Regions from separate parts of the Homo sapiens genome. Here regions 1 and 2 are each linked to region 3. The links come from fine-mapping of genetic effects on gene expression. A gene starts in region 3. Each other region holds a variant in brackets. All regions are shown on one strand. Distances are between the middles of the regions. Region 1 overlaps GUCY1A1 (guanylate cyclase 1 soluble subunit alpha 1). Region 2 overlaps GUCY1A1 (guanylate cyclase 1 soluble subunit alpha 1). Region 3 holds the start of GUCY1A1 (guanylate cyclase 1 soluble subunit alpha 1).

Region 1 (8,188 bases), 29 kb after region 3:
ACGAAGAGTGTAAATTAAAAAGCATTCCTTTTTCTCCACAACCTTCTCAGCATCTGTTATTTTTTGACTTTGTAATAATAGCCATTCTGACTGGTGTTAGATGGTATCTCATTGTGGTTTTTGATTTGCATTTCTCTAATGAGCAGTGATGTTGAGCTTCTTTTCACATGACTGTTGGTCACATGTATGCCTTCTTTTGAAAAGTGTCTTTTTCTAACTTTTCATCTGCTCCTTAAGACCTGCTTTTGGAGAAAAGTGTATCAGTGCCAGAGAGTGTGGTAAGGGGTGTTTTCCTTACATGATATTGTTACATGTCTACATGATCTTGTTACATGTAGTAAACAAGATGTTCATGCCTAATTGAATTCTAGGATGGGCATGGTGGCTCACGTCTGTAATCCCAGTGCTTTGGGAGACTGAGGCACGTGGATCACCTGAGGTCAGGAGTTCGAGACCAGCCTGGCCAGCATGGCGAAACCCCATCTCTACTAAAAATACAAAAATTAGCTGGGCATGGTGGCTGCCACCTGTAATCCCAGCTACTTGGGAGGCTGAGGCAGAAGAATTGCTTGAGCCCAGGAGGCGGAGGTTTCAGTGATCCAAGATCATGCCACTGCACTCCAGCCTGGATGACAGAGTGAGACTCTGTCTCCAACAAAAAAAAAAAAAGTTCATGCTTCATTAAATTTTAAATTCTAGAGTTTAAATGATTGAGGGTTGCCTTACTTGCACAATAATCTGTCCCTGTTATTAATACTAGGCCAGTAGCTGGGTCATTATTCTCACCACGGCAAAGTTAATCACTCACTAGTAAAAAGAGAGTGAGCATTAAGTTTATTTGGAGGCTGTTTAATTATCAACTTTTGGAATGAGAAGTACCTCTTCAAGTTTCTGAGAACATATTATTCCACTTCTTGCCAAGGCCTGTCGCCAAATTTATTATTTTAATTTATTTGTTTTTCCCTTACCATGTTACTACCATCTCTACAACCAACTATGTACTGAATTCACCCACTGACCAAACCATTTCTGAAGTTACTGCTAACGTTACCCATAAAAATCATCACTAGTTTACTTGAGGAACAATCTTTTGCCTGCCAGGAATATTCTGTATTCTGTATTCCTGGCAGGCAAAAGCAAGACAAACAGGTTTCCAAGGTATCAACACTGCGTGCATCTGCTTCATAGTGTAATTTCATCAGTTGAGCAGATGAAGAATGCTAATTAGTTTGTTTATACATATGTAATTTAATGAGACTAAACACTTAACTATCTTAAAGTAAGCACAACTTACTTCCTGTTGGCTGTTTTTGCTTTAATAAAAAACACTGTTCGGCTTATTTCCTGGAAATTATAGTACCGTGCAGTACAGGAAAAGAAATTATTTCAAGGAAGGTTGACTGGTCAATTGTATTCTACTGCAGCTGGATTCAGTAGGAAGATAAGAATTAAAATATTGGGCTTGGGTACCAGCGTTGAAATCCAATGTGAATGAGAGAGTTAAGTTTAATGGAAAGATCTATTATAAACTATATTATGGCAAACTTCTAAGTCCAATACTAAAATTCTAATATATACCAGAATAATTCGTTTTAGTAATAATTCTATGCCATCCTCAGACCTAACCTATAATCTTCCATTTCTTATTGTCTTCCTTTTGTTTTTATGTACCCTTTTTTGCTAGTTATTGTAGTTAGATTTTGATATAACTGAAATAGTGGCATTCAGTTAATAAAGCTCTTTTCCCTGAAAATTAATACAAAATAGTGGTACTATTATTTGTATAAATAGTTATTTAGTATTATCTATTACACTCTTTTTGATTACTTTGAAGTTGTTCAAAAACTGGATCCCAGCCAGGCACAGTGGCTCATGCCTGTAATTCCAGCACTTTGTGAAGCCAGGGCAGGAGGATTGCTTGAGCCCAGGAGTTACAGACCAGCCTGGGTAACATAGTGAGACCTTTTCTCTACTAATAATAATGAAAAAAACTCTCCAAGCTCCCCAACCCCAACCAAAACTGGACCTGCGTAGGCTGTTATTTTTGGAGAGGAGTGACTAGAGGAGATGAGGAAATAACTTTGCTCCTATAGTCAAAATTATATTTTAATTAAAATGCTTTAGTTAATATACTCGGTTTTCTACAACCAGGGGTCAGCAAACTACTGGCTATGTTCACAGTCTGCTTTTACAAACAAGGTTGTATTGGAACACATCTGTGCCCATTCATTTGTATATCATCTCTGGCTGGCTTCACACTGCAATGGTAGGGTTGAATACTTGCAATAAAGACCATGTAACCTGCAAAGCTGACAGTATCTATTCTCAGGCCCTTTACAGAAAAGGTTAAAGCACTTTTAAAGCTTAAAGCTGATCATTGATTTGAAGCTTAAATCAGAAGAGAAGTTATTAAACAATAATAGAATTATGTTGAGATGTAGTAAAGACTAAGAAACAAATATTTATTACATTAAGTCCCAAAACAAATGTGGGTAAAATTATTAGATATTTAGGTTTTGTAGAACCTAAGTAATCATTCCCCCTATAGCCATATTACCTTTGGACCACTTCAGTAGTCTATTGAGGTAGACCGCTTCCATTCTGTTCTGGCAGAACAAATTTTCTACTCATAAATGCATAGGATTTTCTTTTGTCCCTTCTTGAAGTTCCATAAATTATATATGAGCATAGATTTTGTTTATAACTTTAGGTAACAGAGCCTTGGCAGCTTCTTCTGGCCTGCCAGCATCCATAATCTTCCTCTATACCTAATGTCCCATGACATCCCATGGGGATCAGATACTGAATTTAGCTTCCTTGTTTGTCCCAGTTCAGAAAATGAGTTGTTCATTGTTCTAAACTTATTAGATGACTTACATGTGACAATTTACAGGCTGTTGCTTATGGGAACATATTAAGGGCATTGAGGAGCATAGAAAATAAAAAAAAAAAACCTAATTGAACTTCAACTCTAAAGATTCAAATATAAGGCTGAATCTTGGATGTTTCAGATACCACTAGCCAATGAACAGGAAATTATGTTCCTCACTGAATTTTAATATAAATTTGTAAACCATATTTTGAAGATAAAAATCTAAGTTGATTAACAAAGCCCGATTGTGTAGAAACTGCTCTAATTTAGTAATATTAGTTTGGAGTTATAGAAAACACATTGGCTTTGGAGTCAGCTGAATCTGCATTTGAACCCTAGTTCAGTCATTCTCTAGCATTTGAAATGAGAGAAAACTACCTAAACTTTTGAGCTTCTCACCCATTGGGGATAATAATACCTGTGTTATGTGGTTGCTGTGAGGATTAATTGTAAACATAGAGTTCCCAGCACTGTGTCAGGCACATAGTACTTAGTACATGTGGGGATTAGCAAATATGGGTTCTTTTCCACTCTTTGTTTTTCTTCCCCAAGAGTAGGAAATAGCTGGTAGACCCAGTTAATCAAGATAATTAGTATTGTTGATGAACTGAATTCACAACTTGACAGTTCCAGTAACAAATAGCTAATGATAAATGGGTTGTGAATTGTGGGAGAATTTACAACCACAGCATCAACAAAAACAAAAGTACTGGGGGAAATATGCTGGAATGGCGATGCTTATGATTTCAGTGGGAAGTGGGGTAGTCTTTGACTCACCGCAGTCTAGATTTGTTTCCAGAGACCCCTGCAAATCCCATGGTATGTTCTTGGGGATCAGGAGTTCTGATGTTTTTTTCATTTTGATGATAATATTTTTAAATTGCTTTACCATTTAAAGTGATAAAATTTTTCTTTTGCCATAATCATCTTCATTGAACTTTTTTTCATTGAACTTTTTTTTTCTAAGTTGGTGTTTCAAATCTGAAAACATATACTTGGGGATCATTATACATATTGTTTTGCTTTAGGTATTTTTGGAAGCCATTGGTTTTTACTGTTCTGACTTTTCAGAAAGGAGAGCATAATGAGAATGTAGTAGTACAAGCATGAATAAAACATAAACTTAGATGTGGCTTTTGTCATAAAACCGTGGTGTTCCACTCTTGTGAAATCAAACTGGACCAGATGAGTGTAAAAAATGGAAATCAGTAGTTGATGCTAAGAACATTTTGGAAAAATATATTTTATTTTAAAAGTTAAAATAGTAAGAGGAAGTATTTTGCTAATATTGTGAAATTCACACATATTAAGTAAAGATCTTTGCCAAATGTCCTGCTCATTTTATAATTGGCATTTCCAGCAGAATTTTTTTAACTTGAGAATGACATGACTATTGCTTTTGCTCACCTGTCTTTTTCTGTTTTCATCCGTGCATAAAGTCACTCCTCTTTCTGTTCTGACTTTTTGCTGTCCATAGACATCCCAGTTACCAGTGTCCTTGAATTGATAGTGGCTTCTGTTTGTCAGTCTCATATAAGAACTACAGCTCATCAGGAGGAGATC[G/A]CAGCAGGGTAAGAGACACCAACACCATGTTCTGCACGAAGCTCAAGGATCTCAAGATCACAGGAGAGTGTCCTTTCTCCTTACTGGCACCAGGTCAAGTTCCTAACGAGTCTTCAGAGGAGGCAGCAGGAAGCTCAGAGAGCTGCAAAGCAACCGTGCCCATCTGTCAAGACATTCCTGAGAAGAACATACAAGAAAGTCTTCCTCAAAGAAAAACCAGTCGGAGCCGAGTCTATCTTCACACTTTGGCAGAGAGTATTTGCAAACTGATTTTCCCAGAGGTGAGTGCGTGCTCTTTAGATTTTGAAATTGTAATACTTTGAAATTGTAGAAGAATGTTTTTCCAAGGAAAATTTAAACACTTCCTTTCTCACTTTCAAGGCTACAATAAATGTAGAATATTTTCTTGAAACACATAAAAATATTCTTTTAAAGCAATTGTGTTCTTAAGTTGTGTTTTATCTTAAAATGTTTATGATCTTGAATTCTTTTCAAAAGAACACTGCAGTCTGACAAACTTTATGATTTTGGGCAACAGGCTTAATGCCTCTTTACCTCAGCTTCCTTATCCCTAAAATGGAAATAATAGTAGTACCCACCTTCTACAGTTTTAATGAGTTTTAAGTGAAACCATCCATAGCTCTTGCCATAACATAAGTGATCAGTAGTTGTTAGCTATTATCTTAAAATTAAATTCTTCAAAGAATAACTTATTTTCTGCTCAAATTTTCTCTCCTAATTTTAAAGAGCATCATACGTCCCCTGCCAGTTTTCAGAGTTGTGAAAATCTCCCTTGGCCACTTGCTCTGATTCTGAAGTTCTGCTCAAGCCAGTCTTGACTTTCTCCCTTGGGTCGGAGTCATGAGCCTGTGATTGCCTACACCTGCGTGTTATTAGGTCTCACACTTCTTCATATAGCCCTGCAAGCTGCATAGCATAGTGTCATGTTGAGATCTAGAGCACCTTCTGTCAATCCACCTTGAAGGAAACTTCTGGGAAGAGGACACAGACCTAAATAAATAGAAGAGCAGTTGAAGGTCTTCATGATGTCTTCCTCCCTCTGTCAGTCTTCATAGTTTTATATAGATTTGCTTAACCTATGAATTTGGCTGGACATTGACTTAATCAGACACCAGCTAACATAATACATTGATAATTTTTAATTGACTCAATACCAACCCTCTACTGTGTGCAAAGCACCAAAGAAACATGGACTGGCTGATTTTCAGAACTGAAAGGAATTTAACAGATAATCTTGTTTCACTCCCAGGAAGTGCTAGGGAAGTTCAGTGACTTGACCAAAATTACACAGCTTTCAAAGGGTAGAGCAATTAATTCCTGCTGTAAACAGTCCAGGCTGGAATGACTGAGAAAGAAGAAATTGAAGTTTGAAAGATGGATAAATTAGACTTAGCAGAAAGTTGAGGGAGTTTATTTCAGATATAATATTAACACAATAGTACTTTGGCAGATAACCTTTGAAATGGAAATGTTTAATTATTCTTACCACACTCTAGTTGCTAGACAGCCAGCATTGGCTAGGATAAAGGATAGAGCCCTCCTCAGGGAGTTGGTTTGTAGCACAGTCTGGGAAACAATCGGTGCTCTCATTTCAAGGACAGAGTGAAATGAACAGAAATGAACCAAAGGTGATGATGAGGAAGCTGAGATTGCTTCTATGTTTTCCCTGAATCCTGTCCTTACTATGTTGGCTTTATCATTTTGTTTGGTAAATTTTGAATTTCTGCAATGGAAGTCATACACATATTGGACTCTTTTTTAAAAAACATTATGGTTCACCTCCAGCCTGGGCGACAGAGCGAGACTCTGTCTCAACAACAACAACAAAAAAATTCTGGTTCACTTGATGGTGCCACCAAAAGTTCCACAGGCTTCCTTCATTCTTTTTCATTCATTCTTCTTTTTGCCCTTCTGACTGAATAACTTCAAATGACCTCTCTTGAATTTGCTGATTCTTTGGCTTAAGTCTGCTGTTAATGCTTTCCATTGAGTTTTTCAGTTCAGTTATTCTTTCATTCCAGAATTTTTACTTGGCTCTATTTTTGTGGTTATCTCTTTGTTGATGTTTACATTTTGCTCATGCATAGTTTTCTTATTTTATTTAGTTGTCTGTCTGTGTTTTCTTATAACCCACTAAATTTCATTATATTGAATTTTTTGTCAGGTAATTCATTGTTCTTCATTTCTTTAGGGCTGGTTACTGTAGATTTATTTATTTATTTATTTATTTGGTTGTATCATATTTCCCTGATTTTTCGTGTCCCTTGTAGCTTTGCATTGGTGCCTGCACACTTGAGTATGCAGTCACCTCTTTGCTTCTTTTCAGACTGGTTTTCACAGGAAAAGACATTCACCAATTGGCTCAGCTAGAGATTTTGAGAGCCTCTCAAACATTTTCTATGGATGTGCATGTTCCATTCCTCTCTTTTCCTGCTGAGGGAGAAGTTTCTGGGTGGTGTGCCTTCTCCTGATCCTGAAGAGCCATACAGGCTGCTATAAACTTCCCTTCTCTTTTTCCTAGGAAAATGTACTGAAAGACTAGGATGCAATACCAAATTAAAATTGTATATAAAAAATTTAGTAGTCTATGTTGTTTGTTCATGAGTTTGTAAGAATAAGCATTAAGATTTGACTACAGTGTCATGTAACAGAGAGGGCAAGACTATAGGAGATGGAAGAGGTATGTTTGGCATTAGTAACTAAAACTCCTCTCCAACTGAGATATTATCGTTATGGCAGTAAATGTTCCAGTGTTGAATACATTTGAGCTGTGTAGTCCTCAATCTAGATGACTTCAAACATCTGCTTATCTTTGATAAATACTTGTTATGTTTTTTTACTGATTATTTGTTAAGTTTATAGATTTAATGCTTAGACTGCTATTTAGTGTCAGTTGTATTAATAATACAAAAGAAGATATTTAAAATAGCATTTGACATCACAATTTTTGTTTTAGATAATCAGAATTAACTTCCTGGTTATATTTTTATTAGTGAACAGGCAAGTATAAAAATGTATTATCCTTAGAAAATGTAACATGAGAGAGGTCGTTCTCAAGTAATGGAATACTAGAGCTTTAAAAAGTCTTCTTGATCATCTAATGCAAACTTATCATTTCTATTTTAAGAAATAGAGACACATAAATTTAGATCTCTTGCTTAAAGCAAAAGATAACTGGAGAAATGGAAAACTCTCTGCATTTCATTCACAACCCATTGCTCTTCATAATATAATATTGTTTGCTCTTTTTTCATGGGTATTGTTTCCCAATAATTCTGTAAGCTCCTTCAGGCATACTGTCTTGAAGGAGCTTTTAATGGAGCCACAGTCAAAGCAAATCAGAAACCACTTACTGAATTGAAATAATTGAATTGGATATGCTTACATAAATGATAAGATCCCAAATCAAGTACCTAGTAAGAGTAGGATTTGAAGAGAATCACGAGGTCTGTAGATGTGTTCTAGAATATTAGGTTGAAAGAAGAAAAAGAAACAGTATTACAATTTATCTTATGAATTAAAATATTATTGGTCTAGAAAAACGTTAAGCACTGTAGGAAAATTAAAAAGCCAATGAAAATAGTGACTTATCCATAAACCACACCAATGATATTTTTATTAAAATTCACATTGTTGACAGCAATGTTGCATCAAATAGCAGTTTTTCCTGAAGTATTCATATATGGTATATTTGTGGCAAAAGTACTTGTTTTAATAATTTAATCAGATCTA
Region 2 (8,188 bases), 57 kb after region 3:
AGAGATTCAAAACTGGAGAAGGGGAGGAAGGCAGCACGGCATGGAAGGACTAGGAGGGACACTTGCCTTGTCTGCATCGTTTCGGTTTTTACGAGCAGAATATATTTACATTTTAATTATGAAACAAGATAAAAATGCTATGGTAAATTTAATATATAATAAGCTGGAGTAACTAAGTATAGGAAGAAAAACTGGTTTAACCAGAAGAGTGCTCACAGAAAGCAAAAATTCCTCAATCTAAATATGCTGAAGTCATAGTTGATATTTATGAGCAGAAGAGCTTTATTCTATCTATCTATCTATCTATCTATCTATCTATCTATCTATCACTTGCTAAATGTGTAAATTAATATTCTCCTAAAAGAGACAAAGCCAGATATATAACAGACATCTAAGTTTTGCTTGTTAAAGTAAAACTTTGATGAAGAAAGGTCTTTAAAAATAATCAAACCCCTGCATTTTATAGGTGAAAACATGATCGGAGGGAAGTAAAGAGACTTAAGGAAGCCAGACTACCAGTTACTAGTAGAGCTTGTTAGAATACAAAGTTCCTGATTCACAGTCTAGTGCTTTTGTTTGAAAATTTTGTAGAACTCATATGACATCTTAAAAGTAAATGAGTCTGGAAAGTTTCTAGCAGATATCTGAAATTAGTTATTAAAACTAGACATAACTGAATTCTTCTGATTTCTAAATTATATCCAAGTTACTGAGTTCTTGGTCTTCATTCAAAACGCATACATCTAATACAACTTTTTAAAATGGTTGAGTAAACAAAGAGTTTGAAAATAATTAACATGGTATCATCATCATTTAAAATATCTCCACTTTAGCTTGTTTTGTAGTAGCAGTAATTTAAGTGTTTGTGAATCTTTTAAGATCATCAAGTAATCAGACCTTTGAAGATTCCATTGTTAAATATCCTGCTTTGGCTAGGCAAGGTGACTTACATTTGTAATCCTAGCACTTTGGGAAGTTGAGGCAGGAGGATCACTTGAGCCCAAGAGTTTGAGAATCAGCTGGGCAACATAGCAAGACCTTGTCTCTACAAAAAATTTAAAACTTATCCAGGTGTGATGGTGCATGCCTGTAGTTCTAGCTACTCAGGAGGCTGAGATGGGAGGATCATTTGGGCCCAGGGGTTCGAGGTTACAGTGAACTATGATGGTACCGCTGCACTACAGCCTGAGTGACAGAGCAAGACTCTGTCTCTAAAAAATAAATAAAATAAAACATTCTGTCTCAGTGGCTTTCCAAATCATTGGAGACTTCCAGAATTCCTAAAATTTTGCCACAACACATCCCAGACTGCCTCTTATATCTAGGCATGGCACAAATCTGATCTTTCATCAGTATGGATTTTTAATTTCATGTATATAGACATTGTCATCGTCATTGGACTCAAGTACCTTCCACTTTCTGCTTCCTCTGTCATTTTCTGCTTAAATATTACAATTTCATTTCCTCAGTTGTAAGTCATTAGAACAGTGGGATAGTGTTTGGTATAAAGCTATTTTGAGGTAAAATGTCTAAAAGATATATTTAATATCCTTAGAGCTAGCTTCATTTGCCCTTCTTTGTCAGTGTTTGGGAAAATGATTCCAGGAGTCCAGAAATTATGTCTATCTCACTTGAATGAGAGGTGGCAGTTTCACATAAACAGCTCATATCCCCCTTGCTATGTTGCTGTGGTTACTATGATCCCTGTGCATGGAAACTTGTTTCAGATGTTGAAGACAGACACAATTAAGATGGTTTGTGTAATAAACCTAAATGGAAAAGAGTTAAGAAGTGTGACTGTTGATTCTGCACTAGTAATTTTTAATTGCATGTGAGGAGTAGAGGGAAGTTGGCTGAAGGTTTTGAGGAAAGGGGTGGTGTCCTGAGGGTGAATGGTAAAATAATTTAGACGGTATTCAAACGACACTGACGAGTAGGAAGTGTTTTACCAGTGACTGGGAACATCATGTTATTTTTTGCTTTCAGATGCGAATTGGACTGCACTCTGGATCAGTTTTTGCTGGCGTCGTTGGAGTTAAAATGCCCCGTTACTGTCTTTTTGGAAACAATGTCACTCTGGCTAACAAATTTGAGTCCTGCAGTGTACCACGAAAAATCAATGTCAGCCCAACAACTTACAGGTAGTAATTATGTTAAACACCTAAAATCTCTTGTTTTTATTTATATACAATTGCCATTTGCCCCACTGATTTGATTCATTCTTCATAACTTTTTTCTTCCTTAGTCGTAAGGAAAAAAGAAACGTGATAACTTTTATCATCCTCACTTTAACTTTTTTACACTGCTTATTAGCCTCCTAAGAATGACTTGCCTGAGGTGTTTGTGGCCCAGCCATAAATCCATGACAGATATTACATAGTCTTCCATCATTCTTCTTTTAGAAGCACATATTAATACTCTTAGTATGTTGATAGGTGTTCTGACATCAACTAGTACACTGCAGTGCAGTTCTGGCAGTAAACACCCAGACTCAGCACAGTCATAACCACAAGTTACAGGGCACAGAACCCAACAAGCCTGCCCTTAATTCAGATGCCAGCCACCCTTCAGGACCTAAGTATGCATTTAGACGACTGAGCTACAATTTTGGGGGTTCCCATGAACCTCTCAAGTTAGATAATTATCTAAAATGACTCACAATACTTAGGGAATTGCTATACTTACTATTACAGTTTTATTTCGAAGGATACAAATCAGAACCAACCAAATGAAGAAACAGTTTGGGTAAGGTTTGGGAGGGTCCCAAATGCAGAGCTTCCATAGAATCAGAACTTATCTCCCTCCAGCCACCTCAGTGGGTTCACAAGCCAGGAAGCTCCACCTGATTGAGCTTTGAGTTTGGTGTATGGAGTCTTATTGTTTTCATTATGTAGGCATGATTCGTTGAATCATTGGCCATGTGATTGAACTCAGTCACCACCCCCACTCTCCTCCCCAGAGGTTAGGCTAACACAAAACCCCAACCTTCTATCCACAAGATTGATTTTTCTGGGGCCCTGCCCCCATTCTGAGTCATCTCATTAATATAAACTCAAAAGTGATCCAAGGGCCTCATGGAAAACAGATACTCCTATAACTCAAAAAATCCAAGAGTTTTAGAAGCTCCCTCCCTGCAATCAAGGACAACAGCCAGTCAAATTCCCTATCATACAGGGAAGAATTTACCAGAGGAAAACTAGCTGGTCATCGAGCACTTTTCAAAGATTGCAGTTTTATGGACTGGCAGCAAGTGTTAACACGGTCAGAGGAGCCACGTGTCATCTAGCATCAGAAGAACCTTTATTTTCACTGTCGCCTTGACAACATGTAGTATACAGCCTGAGTCAATAAAATCTACCATTTTGTTATCACTTATCCACCTTTAACCGGAAAATAAACCAATCCGTGGTAACTAGAAATATATCTTTCATGTACATTTTGTCTCATTATATTGGAAACTCTTAAGTAACAAAAGAGTTTTTCAGATCTATACAGTAGCTAAATTATACTAAGCAAGTTAGCTTTCCTATTCTCAGAGATAACTCTTTAATAGCATCTTCTCCCTTCTTCTTCTGCATTTATTTATTTATTTATTTATTTATTTATTTATTTATTTATTTATATTTTTTGAGACTAAGTCTTGCTCTATGGCCCAGGTTGGAGTACAGCAGCTCAGTCTTGCCTCACTGCAAGCTCTGCCTCCCAGTTTCAAGTGATTCTCCTGCCTCAGCCTCCCAAGTAGGTGGGATTACAGGCGCCCGCCTCCACGTCTGGCTAATTTTTGTATTTTTAGTAGATACTGGGTTTTGCCGTGTTGGCCAGGCTGGTCTCGAACTCCTGACCTCAAGTGATCTGCCCACCTTGGCCTCCCAAAGTGTAGGATTACAGGCGTGAGCCAATGCACCTGGTCTTCTCCCTTCTTAAGGCACCAGCATCCTTTCCTTTCCAGCCCAGACTCTCAGTTGATAATCTTGCCTCATATTTCACCACCAGAATAGAAGTCAGACAGGAGCTTTGCCATCTTTGTGCTGTAGGTTCTCTCAGCAGAGCTACCCCAGTACTCATCTCCTCCTTCTTTGTTCCCATTACATTGGCCCAGCTCCCCTCCTGCCCCTGGTTGATACAGTTTTACTCTCAGTGCTATTTCCTCTCACCTTCTCAATAACTTTTCTGTGGAAATTAACTCTCTATGATCAATTTCTCTTTGATGAAATGATTATTCCCAACAGAATACAACCATATCTATTAAAGCTCTGAATTGAAAAATAAAAAATTCCTTGTTTCCAAGTCCGGCTTCTGCTACAATTTT[C/A]AATTTCTGCTCTGTTTTATAGCAAAACTGAAAGAAGTTGTCTATACTCACTATCTGTATTTTTTCCACCTCTTATTTTCTCTTCAACTCACTCCAGTCAGTGTTTACTCCACTCAAACGGTTCTTATCAAGGTCATCATTGTGCCCTGCTAAAATAAAATCACTGTCAGTTTTCTCTCCTTATCCTCTCAGAAGCATTTGAATAGGCTGAGAACTCCCTCATTTAAACATTTTCTTCTTTAAATTTTTGGCACCACATTCACCTAGTTTTCTCACTACCCCATGTCTACACCTTCTCAGTGTCTTCTCTTGGTACTCCTTCCCTACCAAACCTTTGTTGCCGTGCTCAGAGCCTCTTTTCCTGTTATCTTCTGTATCTGAACTTTTATGACTCTAACTATTTTTTAAAAAAAATCTTTCGCCCATCCTGTGATTCTCTGCAGAGCTACAGACTCATATATCCTATTCCATATTTCCACTTGGATGACTAATTCACATATTAAAATGAACTGGACCGAATTAGAATGAGTGATTTCCCACACAGACTGATGAAATCCACTTCCCACCCAGGCAAGCTTACCAATCACCTTAAAATGATATCACCATCCACCTAGTTACTCAGACCATCGACCTTACAGTGATCATTTCTTCTCCTCTCTTTAAAGAGACACTCCTTAACTATCATAACTATAGCAACAACCTTCTCCTCACATACCCTCTCATTATCCTATTTCATCTTCTCAGTTCACACCTGTATCTGAAATTGTCTTATGCAGTATTTATTTATGTGTTGATTGCCTGCCTCCCTTTTTAGAATGTTAGCTTCCTGTGGTACACATTCCATATTCCCAGCTCCTAGATCAGCGCGTGAAACACAGAAGGAAAGCAAGAAGTATTTACTGGTTAACTGTTGACTCCTGGGTATGAAAACAACTCAGTATAACCTGAGAATTGGAAAAATCCCTGGGGTTCATTGTAATGGTAATTGGCCTATGGTCCTACTGGGTATAATAGGTAGGGATAAGAATCCATGCCTTGAGATAATATGATTCTACTCTCTCTGTAGGCATTAAGAGGAATCATCCTATTAAGTAGGAGTCAGTTGCCCATCCTTTCACTGACACCTGTGTTTCTCTTTCAATGTTAAGTGATGTGTTATGTGTATATGTGCATACTGAGGAATCCTACCTTAAAACAAAACTGCTACATATAAAAAGCATATTTTCCTTTTTCTTCTATATTGATTGTTTTTAACAGTATGAAACTAAACTTTTTAAATTCTTGCATTTTGTATCTCAAAGTCTGGTGGTCTTGAGTCATGTTAGGGGGCACTGATATTAGCTACTTATTTTTCTTCAAAATATAATTCAGGATCTCATGTATTTCAGCAGAGGACCACAACATGTTGACATATATTTCTGACAACAGGACAATGCTCATGACTTAAGTCTTAGATTCACTGTATTGGCAATGTTACTAGAAATGCACATATAGGTTTTTATAGCATAGATGGTGTTATCTTTTAAATAAATTTTTTATTACTGTGGTAACACATGCCCATTTCAGAAAATTTACAAAATTAGTAAATTATAAAGTAAGTAATAGGAATAAGTCATAATCTCATTACCCAGAGATAGTAACTATTAACATTTCTGTCTTTGTTTCAGTTACGTTTATATACACATGCATGAATGACATTGAAATTTTAATTTAATTTATATTGAACTTCAGCTCATTTGCTGAAGTCATTTCTACTTTTTATAGACAAATATGATATAGCTTTTTTCCTTTTGTATTGATTTCAATAATAGTTTACTTTCTTTTTATTCTCGTATATGAGATATTTATGCCTTGCCTAAGGGAAAGCAGTAGTTAATACTGTCTTATTTAGGCAAAATATAAATACTTAATGTTAAATACTTTTAACAACATTTTAAATTCCTTTCTTTCAGAGATACTTCACTTTTCTTCCATATGCTGGGAAAACTTAAAATAATATAAATAAATTTCAATTAAACATCCAATGCTTTGGGAAATTTAGTCAACGGTAGGGGCATAATTTTAGTTTTACTCAAACTATAGTACAAGAAGCGGCTGCTAAAGAAGGTGTACAAGCACAAAATGCAGTTTTCTTTGGAGAGCTTTATTGATGATACATTAAATTCTGGAATGATATTTCTTTAATAATAAAATAATCTGTTTAATATTGAATGTAGCTTCCATGATATATTTCTGAAATACAGGTAAATTTAGGACACAGAATACATACCTATACCAAAAAAAAACCTGTATCTTCAAATTTCCACTTCCAAATTCTAATCAGTGATTCAGAATGTAGCAGTGTAATGACAGTTATACACTCCTGTTTTTTAAACATTGTCAGGAGTTTTACTTTAATTTTAGGGGATAATATTCGACATTTTGTTTGCATTCTTGAAGTAAGGAAAACTAATAGAGACTAGTAGAGACTACATTAGATCAGTGAGTCAGTGGATCCAGGTCTACTACATTAGTTCCAGGTCAGTGGGTCAATGTTAGAGGATTATGTGGTGATCCAGGGATCATTAGAAACAAAAATGGCAAGTGGGGAGGATACATGGATGCTGTCCAGTTTGTGGGGTAAACAGGCCTAGAATCTCTTATTTGTAGGACAAGTCTGAGCACATTGTGCTAGAGAAGCAAGAATTGACTTCTGTAAGAAGAAGGAACAAAGTGAATAAAGGAATATAGGAAAGATAACAGAGAATTGGAGCATTGATGCAGTAATTTGCGGAAAAATGGTGTCTGGTGAAGAAGGTGTAGAGAAAAATGTCCACCTATGAGGACATCTGGGCTGTTGCTGCCTTTTTTGGGTGTTGCTATCATCAAGCTTTCATCGAAATGGTTTGTTTTTCTAAATGGTTTTTCTTATATATTCTGATTTTTTAAAAAGACAATATAATGAACATTTCAAACTCCATAGCATTCTAATTATGTTTGTCTGTTAAGTGTCTTTAAAAAGCATAGAAGTTGTATTCAGAAGACATGCCTTAGAGTCCCACAAACAGCACTTACCAGACGTGCAATCTAGAGCAATGCCCTTAATAAATTCAAATGATGCACTTTAAAGCCACTTCTAAAGGCTGAATATATGTATATAATACATTTAAATAGGAGATTATAATTGTCATTACCGTATTTAGTAGGAAATGTTGAGTTGCTGTAGATAGAAAAAATAATAGATAAATTTTTTTAATCACCTATAGTTTTATACATTTTTATTTATTAGACTCTTATAGTTGCATACATTTTTGTATTTAATTTTTAAACATATAAAAAAACAAAGCAAACAAGATGACACTCATGTAGCCAATACTAATATTTAAGTATCAACATTTTGCCATATTTCTTTCAGGTTTCTGTTTTATAAAAAAATAAAATGTAAAGTAAATAGATATTAATATAATAAAATATAAATAGAAACTCTTACATGGTCCCTGTTACACGCTCTGACACAATGGATCCTAAGTGCTTTATAGCTTGTAGGAGCTGAGAATATGTACTCTCTGCAGACAGTCTCCCAAATACAGATGCATGTTCAGCAGCTTCTCCACAACTCATCAATAAGATGTCACTTCTGCTTTCCAGGAAGGAAAATGGGTAGAGAGAGGCAGGAATATCACTTTCATTTAGGTCCTGCCAGATAGAAAAATAAAGCCAGAGGAAAATAGATTCCCAGTGAACATATCCATATCCTTTTAAGACTTGCCTTGAATCCACTCAGTATTATGTTTCTGAGATAGTTTCCTTGATAAAATGTAAATCTAGTCATAAATCTAGATTATTCATTTTAACTATTGCTAATGGAGTGGTTTGCTGGTAAACCAGCTTTGGAGGATG
Region 3 (8,188 bases):
TTTTTGTTTTGAGACGGAGTCTCGCTCTTCTCGCCCAGGCTGGAGTGCAATGGCGTGATCTCGGCTCACTGCAACCTCCACCTCCCAGGTTCAAGCAATTCTCCTGCCCCAGCCTCCCGAGTAGCTGGGATTACAGGCACCTGCCACCATGCCCAGCTAATTTTTTGTATTTTTAGTAGAGACAGGGTTTCACCATATTGGTCAGGCTGGTCTCGAACTCCTGACCTCAAGTGATCCACCCGCATCCGCCTCCCAAAGTGCTGGGATTACAGGTGTCAGCCACTGCACCCAGCCCCCTTTCTATTTTCAAAGCCAGCAATTGCTTATCAATTCTTTCTAACATAGCATCACTCCGACTCTGACTGACTCTATTGCTTTAATCTTTCTTTTACAAGGACCCTTTTGATTGCATTTGGTTCACCCACCTAATCTGGAATAATATTCCCATCTCAAGACTAGCTGATTAGTAACCCTAATTCTATCTGCATCCTTACTTCTCTCTTGCCATGTAAAATTGCATATTCACAGGTTCTAAGGATTAGCAGGTAGACATCTTTGGAGTGCCATTATTCTACCTACCACTGTATTTACTGCTCACAAACACCAACTCCTTGGCAAAAATATAGTGGACAGCATTTCTGTTACCATCAGAATCTCTTCCAGTCCAGGCTGCTTTGTGAATGTCTATACCAGGACTAGAAATGCGTGGACGCCAACCTAATAAGATCTAGTTTTTCTAACTAAAGCTTTACATTCATACAAAAGAGACATTTTGGAGTCTTTGCATCATCTTACTGCAAGTTACCAGTGTAAACTTTAACCAGGTACATTAAAACAAATTGAAAATGAATAATACTAAGAAAAGGAGGAAATAAGGAGCCAGAAGTTTATCTTATTTTTCTTATATTTGAGAGGTTATCCTAATTTGGTAAACCATACAATCCATAGTTTGTTCGTTTGCTAAAAATAAAACAAAGCTCTGACCCTGACATATATGTAACACTTCTCTCATTTCTACCCTTTTACTGTTCTCTATCTCGTTCTTAATTCCCCTTGGTTTATGGATTTTTTATGGTCCACAAAGTCAGTAGAGATGAAACCATTAGTCCCATTACTTTATTTGAACTGACATGGCAATAGTAACCCAGAAAAATAAAGATGCAGGTTCTAAAAATCCCTGAATTTAGAAAGATTCATACGATGTGTTTTGAGGCTTATCATACTTAATGCCTTGATAGTAGACCAGTGCTTTTCAAACTTTAATGTGCATAGGAATCACTTGAGGATTCTGTTTAATGGATAGTCTGATTCAGTTGGTTTAGAGAGGGGCCTGAACTTCTGTATTTCCAACAAGATTGTAGGTTATGGGATACTGCTAATATAGAAACCATACTCTGAGTAGCAAGGATTTAGATACTATCTCTAGTTGCCATTGTCCTTTCATTTGCAAGTGTGAAAGTAATGTACATTTAAATGCTTTCATGCTGTTGTCAATTGTGGGTTGTAGGTACAAGAAAAACAAAGCATCTTGAGAGGAAATAAAAATTTCTTGAGCTTTTCTGCCAGCATCAACATGGCTAAGGAGATTGCTTTACACTGAGTAATTTTCCTTGTTAACATTTTTATTAAGTTGTCATGACAACTTTCTTATTCTCCATAAAGTGGAGGAAAGTAGGTTTTAACCCATAAGTCAACTATAAGAAAGAAGATTGGACCTGGAAGATGATGAAATATTCAGGTATTCATTTATCCACTCAGCAGGCATTTTAGTGAATCCCGTTATGAACCATTTTCATTACTAGGAAATTAGGCTGTGAAGATTAGTATTTCCCTAACAACAAGGAACTCTTGTTACTTTTTTAGAGCATATCAAACATCCAGATTACAGAATGTCTTTTGCAGTCACCTTTTGGTGGTTCTAGCCACCCTTATGTTTAGATTGGTTGCTTCCTCTTCTTACCCATTGTCTGACAGTCAGAAAGGATAGAGGAGGAAGAAGACAAGACACTATCCAGTTGAGAGTCTACTCTTAGTAAAACTCGGTAGCTCCTGGCAGAATGTACTGGGGTCAAATGCAATACTAATCAAGGAGTTTGGTGTGCCATAAAACTTGAGAATGGTAAAAGTAGAAATTAATGGGTTAAACAAGTCATTTTCCAGAATGAAAGGAATATTGGTAATGGTATCAACAGACGAGGACAACAGCAACAACAAAGTCTTTATACAAGCCTGCAACACGTGACAACTGCGGATCAGGCATCTGAACCCGGCCTATCTTTCCACCGTATCTTCCTACACTTTTCTTTATGTACTTTTTATTTCTACCAGATGGTATTACTCCTTGTTTCTTGAATAACAGTGTCATGCCTTTCCAACCTCTGTATGTTTGCTCACAAGTTTCCCTCTGTCAGAGAAAAGCAAAAACAACAAAAAAGTCCTCTATTTTATCTTTTTCCAAACATAACCAATCCTTCAAGTCCTATCTCTAGTACTGTTCCTTTATGAACCCTGTCAGACAATATCTCATTTTCTTCTGAATGTTCATAGCATTTACTTAAAAATAGTATGACTTCCCTCTTCTTTTTACTAATGAATTACTGTGTATTTTTTAAGTTTCCTTCTACATCTGAAGTTCTAAATATTCTTAGTACAAATGTCCTACTGATCTAAGAGAGTATCATGGGTTAAATGTAGAGGAAGAGAAGTTTCTGAGATGGCAGGAAGGCAAAAGTTTCTGTGACTACCTGTGCTTATATTGCTGACTTTCTTAACTGTTCCTGACTTATTTAAATGTATTTTTTTCCTGATTCTGATTAATGTTCACTATGAGGCAAGCACAGTAGGCAAGACTGGGAGAAAGTTTGCAAATGTGATGAGCTTACAAATGGGACCAGATTAGATGGTGTACTTGGGGGAGATATAAAAGAGGAAGATAACCATGAATTGAACTGAATTGAAAATGGATCACATAAAGATCATGATTAATTGTTAATTCACAATGGAACAGCATGATGGGATTTTTTTAAGTCAGAAAGGTGACTAAAAGCATAATATCACAACACACACAACGGTAACAAATATAACTAAATGCACTGAACCAGGCAGAAGCCAGACCTTACTGAAAAGATGTAAAATCTCTGTAACCATAAAACTGCATCTGCAAATGAGTAGATTGGCTTCAAATCTGAAAACCAGGACAAGAGAGTCATCAGCGCAGATGTCAACTTCCCCAGCAGAAATGTTGGAGTTTTTAACTGTGGAAAACTACAGTTTTTCCACACCAGTGCATAGTGGAGAAGACATGTTTTTGTTTTTCTTTTTAAGTGTGCCAAATTTTCCTGGAGTCCCCTCCAATTTTTTTCTTTCTCTCTCTCTCTCTCTTTTTTTTTTTTTGTCCCCTGCCCCTAGGTCTCTGTCTCCACACAGTGATTTCTGTTATGGCGATTGGGCGGCTGCAGAGACCAGGACTCAGTTCCCCTGCCCTAGTCTGAGCCTAGTGGGTGGGACTCAGCTCAGAGTCAGTTTTCCAGAAGCAGGTTTCAGTGCAGAGTTTTCCTACACTTTTCCTGCGCTAGAGCAGCGAGCAGCCTGGAACAGACCCAGGCGGAGGACACCTGTGGGGGAGGGAGCGCCTGGAGGAGCTTAGAGACCCCAGCCGGGCGTGATCTCACCATGGTGCGTTTTGGCTGCTACTTTCTTTTTCAGTCTTTCGGTGCGGAGAAGGGGAGGAGGCGGGCAGAGGTCTGAAAAAATCGAATGCCTTATGGAAAGGAACTGCAAGGGTTCCTTTGGGGTGATCAAAGAGGGAGACACAGACACAGAGAGACAAAGGCAAGGAGGACTGTCTGGGAGCCACGCGGGCGATACAGTTTCCGAGGCACGCCGCGTCCCGCCTAGCCTGTTGAACAGGTAGACATGAGCGACCCAAGCGTAAGTGCCGCTGCCGCGAGTGCCCAGGGTGCACTCGCGCGGGGACCGACAGGTGCCACTGCAGGGTCCCCTCTCCCGCTCACTGCCTGCCACCCCTGACGCCTGCTCTCTTTCTCCATTCGCAGTGCGGATTTGCGAGGCGCGCCCTGGAGCTGCTAGAGATCCGGAAGCACAGCCCCGAGGTGTGCGAAGCCACCAAGTAAGTGGTCGCTGCATCCCCACGCGGGTCGGGGTTCTTCAGACAGGCGGTCCCTCTTCCGGGACCCCCGCTTGGGCTGGGTCTCCTTCCTCTCCTGAGAAACCTTCGGTACGCTCCCAGTTGCCCAGCCCTGGGAAGCCAGCATCGGGTTCCCACGCTGGGGAGGAGCGAGAGGAAAGGAGAGGACGCCCGAGGGGCCGGCCCAGGGCCCGGGGGACCCGCGGCGCCCGAGGGAGGAGCACAGACGGGGGTGGGCGCCGAGCAGCGCCGCGCCGGCTGCTGAGCTCGCGGGGCCGGGCCGTGAGAACGCGCGGGGCGCGCCGGGGCCGCTGGTCTCCCACGGCCAGGGCGCCTGGGCCCCAGAGCCCATCAGCCGCGTGCAGCGCTGCGGCCTCCGGCGCGCCGGCAGGCAAGCGAGCGGGCGCAGCTGGGGGATGCCTGGACCCCGGAGGCAGCAGGGCTGGAGGCGGTGGCGGGCTTCAGGGCAACTTCACCCGGCCGGCTGCGGCGTGGGTAAGAGGCGCGTCCTCCTCCACAGCAAAAGCTGCGATCGCTGGGCTGCCCAGAGAAGGCAGCCGGCTAACTGCCCAGCGGCTCCACGAGGTGTGCGCGTGTGTGCGAGAGAGACAAATGATTTACTGCTTAGCAGTCCCATTTCTGTTTTCGTTAGGACTGCGGCTCTTGGAGAAAGCGTGAGCAGGGGGCCACCGCGGTCTCCGCGCCTGTCTGCACCCTGTCGCCTGAGCTGCCTGACAGTGACAATGGTGTGAGGGGCTGCGTTGCAATGTGGTCATGTGATTTCAGGCTATGGATTTCGTGCGTCTTTCTCTGCTCACTGATTTTCACATGGTTATTCTTTCATTTTGCACTCGATAAACAGTTTACATCTTCTGAAGTAAGCCAGAAGATTGTATGGCTCACTTAACGATGACTGGTTGAAGGCATCTTGATTTGGAACCTATGGAAACAGTGCTGAGTTTTAAATAGGACAGATTTTTTTTTCTTTCATTTGAACTTCATTTATAACATATCAATAGTGATGTTTTAGGATCAGTTCTCCTATGGTAATTTCACTAAATGCCTATTTAATGAATTGATTTGATTTCATACATCTCTACCACTTACTAGAACTGTCTTTGTACAAACGTCAAACTTTCCTGTTACATATGGGTAAGCATAGAAGCACTTGATATAATTTTTTTTTATCTTGGTTCAGAGTGTAGAAGTGGTCTGTTGCTTTTCCTAAAATTGCTATACATATTTTTTCTTTAAGAGTGATCATTTCAGGTACCCTATTATGTACAGTGGTAAAAAGTAAACTCGTTATGATAGCAACGACGATGTAACCAAAATAAGCAACACTTAATTGGTCTGAAAGTTATACATATAAGCTTTATTATTGCTTCAGTGGAAGTTGTCTATGCATTCTGTGCTTTGTTCAGCCATTAAACAACTGGGTCCGTGATCTTCTTCAAGGGGCCGTGAAGTCCCTAAAATTGTATTTAAACATTAGAGTGGCTGCATTTTAAGGGAGATAGTACATAGTCAAATATCCAAAATGGACCTGTGTCCTAATAGAAAATTAAGAACCACGGGGTAAAAACACGTAAGCCATACTTTTTCTTATCAAAACAACAGGCTGTCTACATACAGCCTGCAGACATAGGCTAGAAGGAAAATTCTAGAACAATTAAATGGTGTTACCGTAGTTAAATATTTCACATAAAATAGACCAGATGTATGTATTTTAATGTATTAGGAAACAGGTCTGTGAACGTATTTAGTAGAAATTTGTAATTAATAGATGGGTACCTTATATTTATATTTATAAGGTATATTTATACTTTATATTGTAAGATCTCTTTCTATTATACGACAGAAAATAAAAATTATATTTTTGTCTTTGAAATCCAATCAAAATATAAAGTACTTATGCTTGGTATAGTGTCTCATAGTGTATGAAATATAAATAGCCCCTTAAAGGTCTTGCTTCTAGATATTCAGGTATTAAATAACATGATTAAAATCGTTTTCTGTCATTCGGAGAATGAGGAAGGAAATATAAAATTATTTTATTTATTTATGGCAATACCAAAAACAAAAGTGTGAAAAACTTCACAATGCTTAGTACTTATAACTCTTATAATTATGTCTTATTAAGGGATCTTTCTTAAGACATTTTGAAAAGCTATTTTAATATTTCACTACAAACAAGTGATAATATTAAAATTAAAGTATATCTATTACAAATACATCAGTAAAATATTTTGTGACCGAATTTTAAGAATTTTGTTATATTTTTCAAATGAAATTGAAAAAAATTAAATGTTTATCTAACATCACTTTTATTGACACATTGATATTGCATAACTTTGAATTTTTTCAGAAACTATACAAGGGAAATTAAATCCTGCATTTACATTTGCTAGCAACTAATGAGTGTGGACTGAGGATAATATTTCTTGCTTTACAGGTTAGTTTAAAATAACACGATCTGCACCCCCATAATTTCTAATTAACCTTTTTTCAGAACTAAATAAACATCAAATTAGCCATCAGAATGAATCTCTACAAGTAAGGGGAAATGGAAAGGTAAAGCAACATTTCAGTAATACAAGCCAAAAAGTATGTGCATTAATGGGAAAAATTTTTGGAGGAAGCTGTTACTGAGAATGACTTTTTCTGTCAGATTCACTAAGAAGTTGCTTGGCTTTTATTTGTGAGAATATTCCATTTTGAAGGCACTATTTTTACACTGGTTAATTAAAAATATTTACCCAAGCCACTTTTCTTAAACATTTCTATTTATTACTTTTCTGCACATTTGTAAAAACAAATTTTTTCCCCAAAGTATTAATAATTAAAAATATGTTTGTCTCTTGACCATCTACATTCATTCTGCAATAGTTTGTTTTGGGTGTCTACATCTTGACTTGATATAAGAAGAGCTTTTGTCAATGTTTAGTTACTAGTTGATTTACTTTGGGTGAAGTAATTTCCTGGCTATCCTGAATCATATCTGCTTCTTTTATTTTCTTTCAGAACATTTTGAAATGTCTTACCTATTATATATGTAATTTTTCTTCTTCCCTGGGTTCATGCCAATAGGCTTCATCTTCCTATAGCCTCGAAGGCTTACAGAGGATGAACAGAGTTATTTTGGAGGGGTGAAAGAAGAGCTGTAGAGTGGGCTTCCCTCTCAGCCCACAGTAGGAGAGAATGGCTACATCTTAAAACTTGAGGGACTCTGGAGCAGGCTCTTCCTTGCCACAAGAATGTGCCTCACAGCCTGTAGTTTCTAACTTCTGGTATGCTTTCTGGCCATTAAACAATATTTCATTAAAACAAATCCTCCATTTTAAAAATTGAGGCCAAGTCAAATTAATTAACTCACATACCAAGTCATCTATCTCACCATACTAAGAATTAGCAGGAAGTCGACACGAGACAATGGCTTTGAGAGTGAACACCTTCTTAGGGGGGAAGCAAATGGGGCAGACCCATTTCTTAATCCTGACCTTTTTTTCTAGGTCCAGCCTATCTATTTATCCCCTTTTGCTATGTCACATGACATTGAAAGTACCTGTTTAAATGTCTGCATCTCCCATTAAACTCAAATCTCCTTCACGGTATCCAATGTTGGATCCATAGTGCTTGGTGCATAGTAGGTGTCTAAAGAGCTTAACATTGTTGTCATTGTTATTCTTGAATTAAGGCTTGTTTATGCTTTGATGCTACCACATGGAGCTATGGTCTTGGTGACAGAGACCCTTGTGTGCTCTTCCGTCATATAGTTTGTGGCCTCTTCAGAATTGCTTGTAAACTGTTATTTATTTCACCAACAATTTTAACTCTGCTCCAACCCTTAAATCTCTTGCCACTAGACCTACCAGAACCTGCCTTCCCAATGTCAGCTTCACTTTTAATGTTTGCTTTACCTTCCTTGCTGTTGATTTAGCTGGACAAAGAGAGACATAACTGTATCTTGTAGCCAACTACCAATTGCTTCACTCCAATGTCAGCTTGGAGGATACTTTGTGCAGCTATTTTATTCTTTTT

What was found. PIP is the estimated chance that this variant, and not a neighbour inherited with it, causes the effect.
Region 1: its variant is the best candidate, but not a certain one, in a credible set for the expression of GUCY1A1 in whole blood (TOPMed, PIP 0.64).
Region 2: its variant is the best candidate, but not a certain one, in a credible set for the expression of GUCY1A1 in whole blood (INTERVAL, PIP 0.85).

The regions. Positions count from the first base shown.
Region 1 is chr4:155,692,407-155,700,594 of GRCh38, forward strand. It overlaps GUCY1A1 (guanylate cyclase 1 soluble subunit alpha 1), which reads left to right. Exons shown (of 10, transcript NM_001130682.3): 3 at 4,350-4,716. The coding sequence starts at 4,462. Among named protein-coding and RNA genes, the nearest start is that of GUCY1A1, 30 kb to the left of the region's middle. The variant G/A (reference allele first, on the strand shown) is at 4,436.
Region 2 is chr4:155,720,052-155,728,239 of GRCh38, forward strand. It overlaps GUCY1A1 (guanylate cyclase 1 soluble subunit alpha 1), which reads left to right. Exons shown (of 10, transcript NM_001130682.3): 9 at 1,987-2,141. It overlaps LOC105377506 (a long non-coding RNA gene), which reads right to left. Exons shown (of 8, transcript XR_007058484.1): 6 at 7,779-7,925; 7 at 7,483-7,508; 8 at 4,367-4,455. Among named protein-coding and RNA genes, the nearest start is that of GUCY1B1, 35 kb to the right of the region's middle. The variant C/A (reference allele first, on the strand shown) is at 4,310.
Region 3 is chr4:155,663,291-155,671,478 of GRCh38, forward strand. GUCY1A1 (guanylate cyclase 1 soluble subunit alpha 1) reads left to right here and starts at 3,558. Exons shown (of 10, transcript NM_001130682.3): 1 at 3,558-3,675; 2 at 4,056-4,129.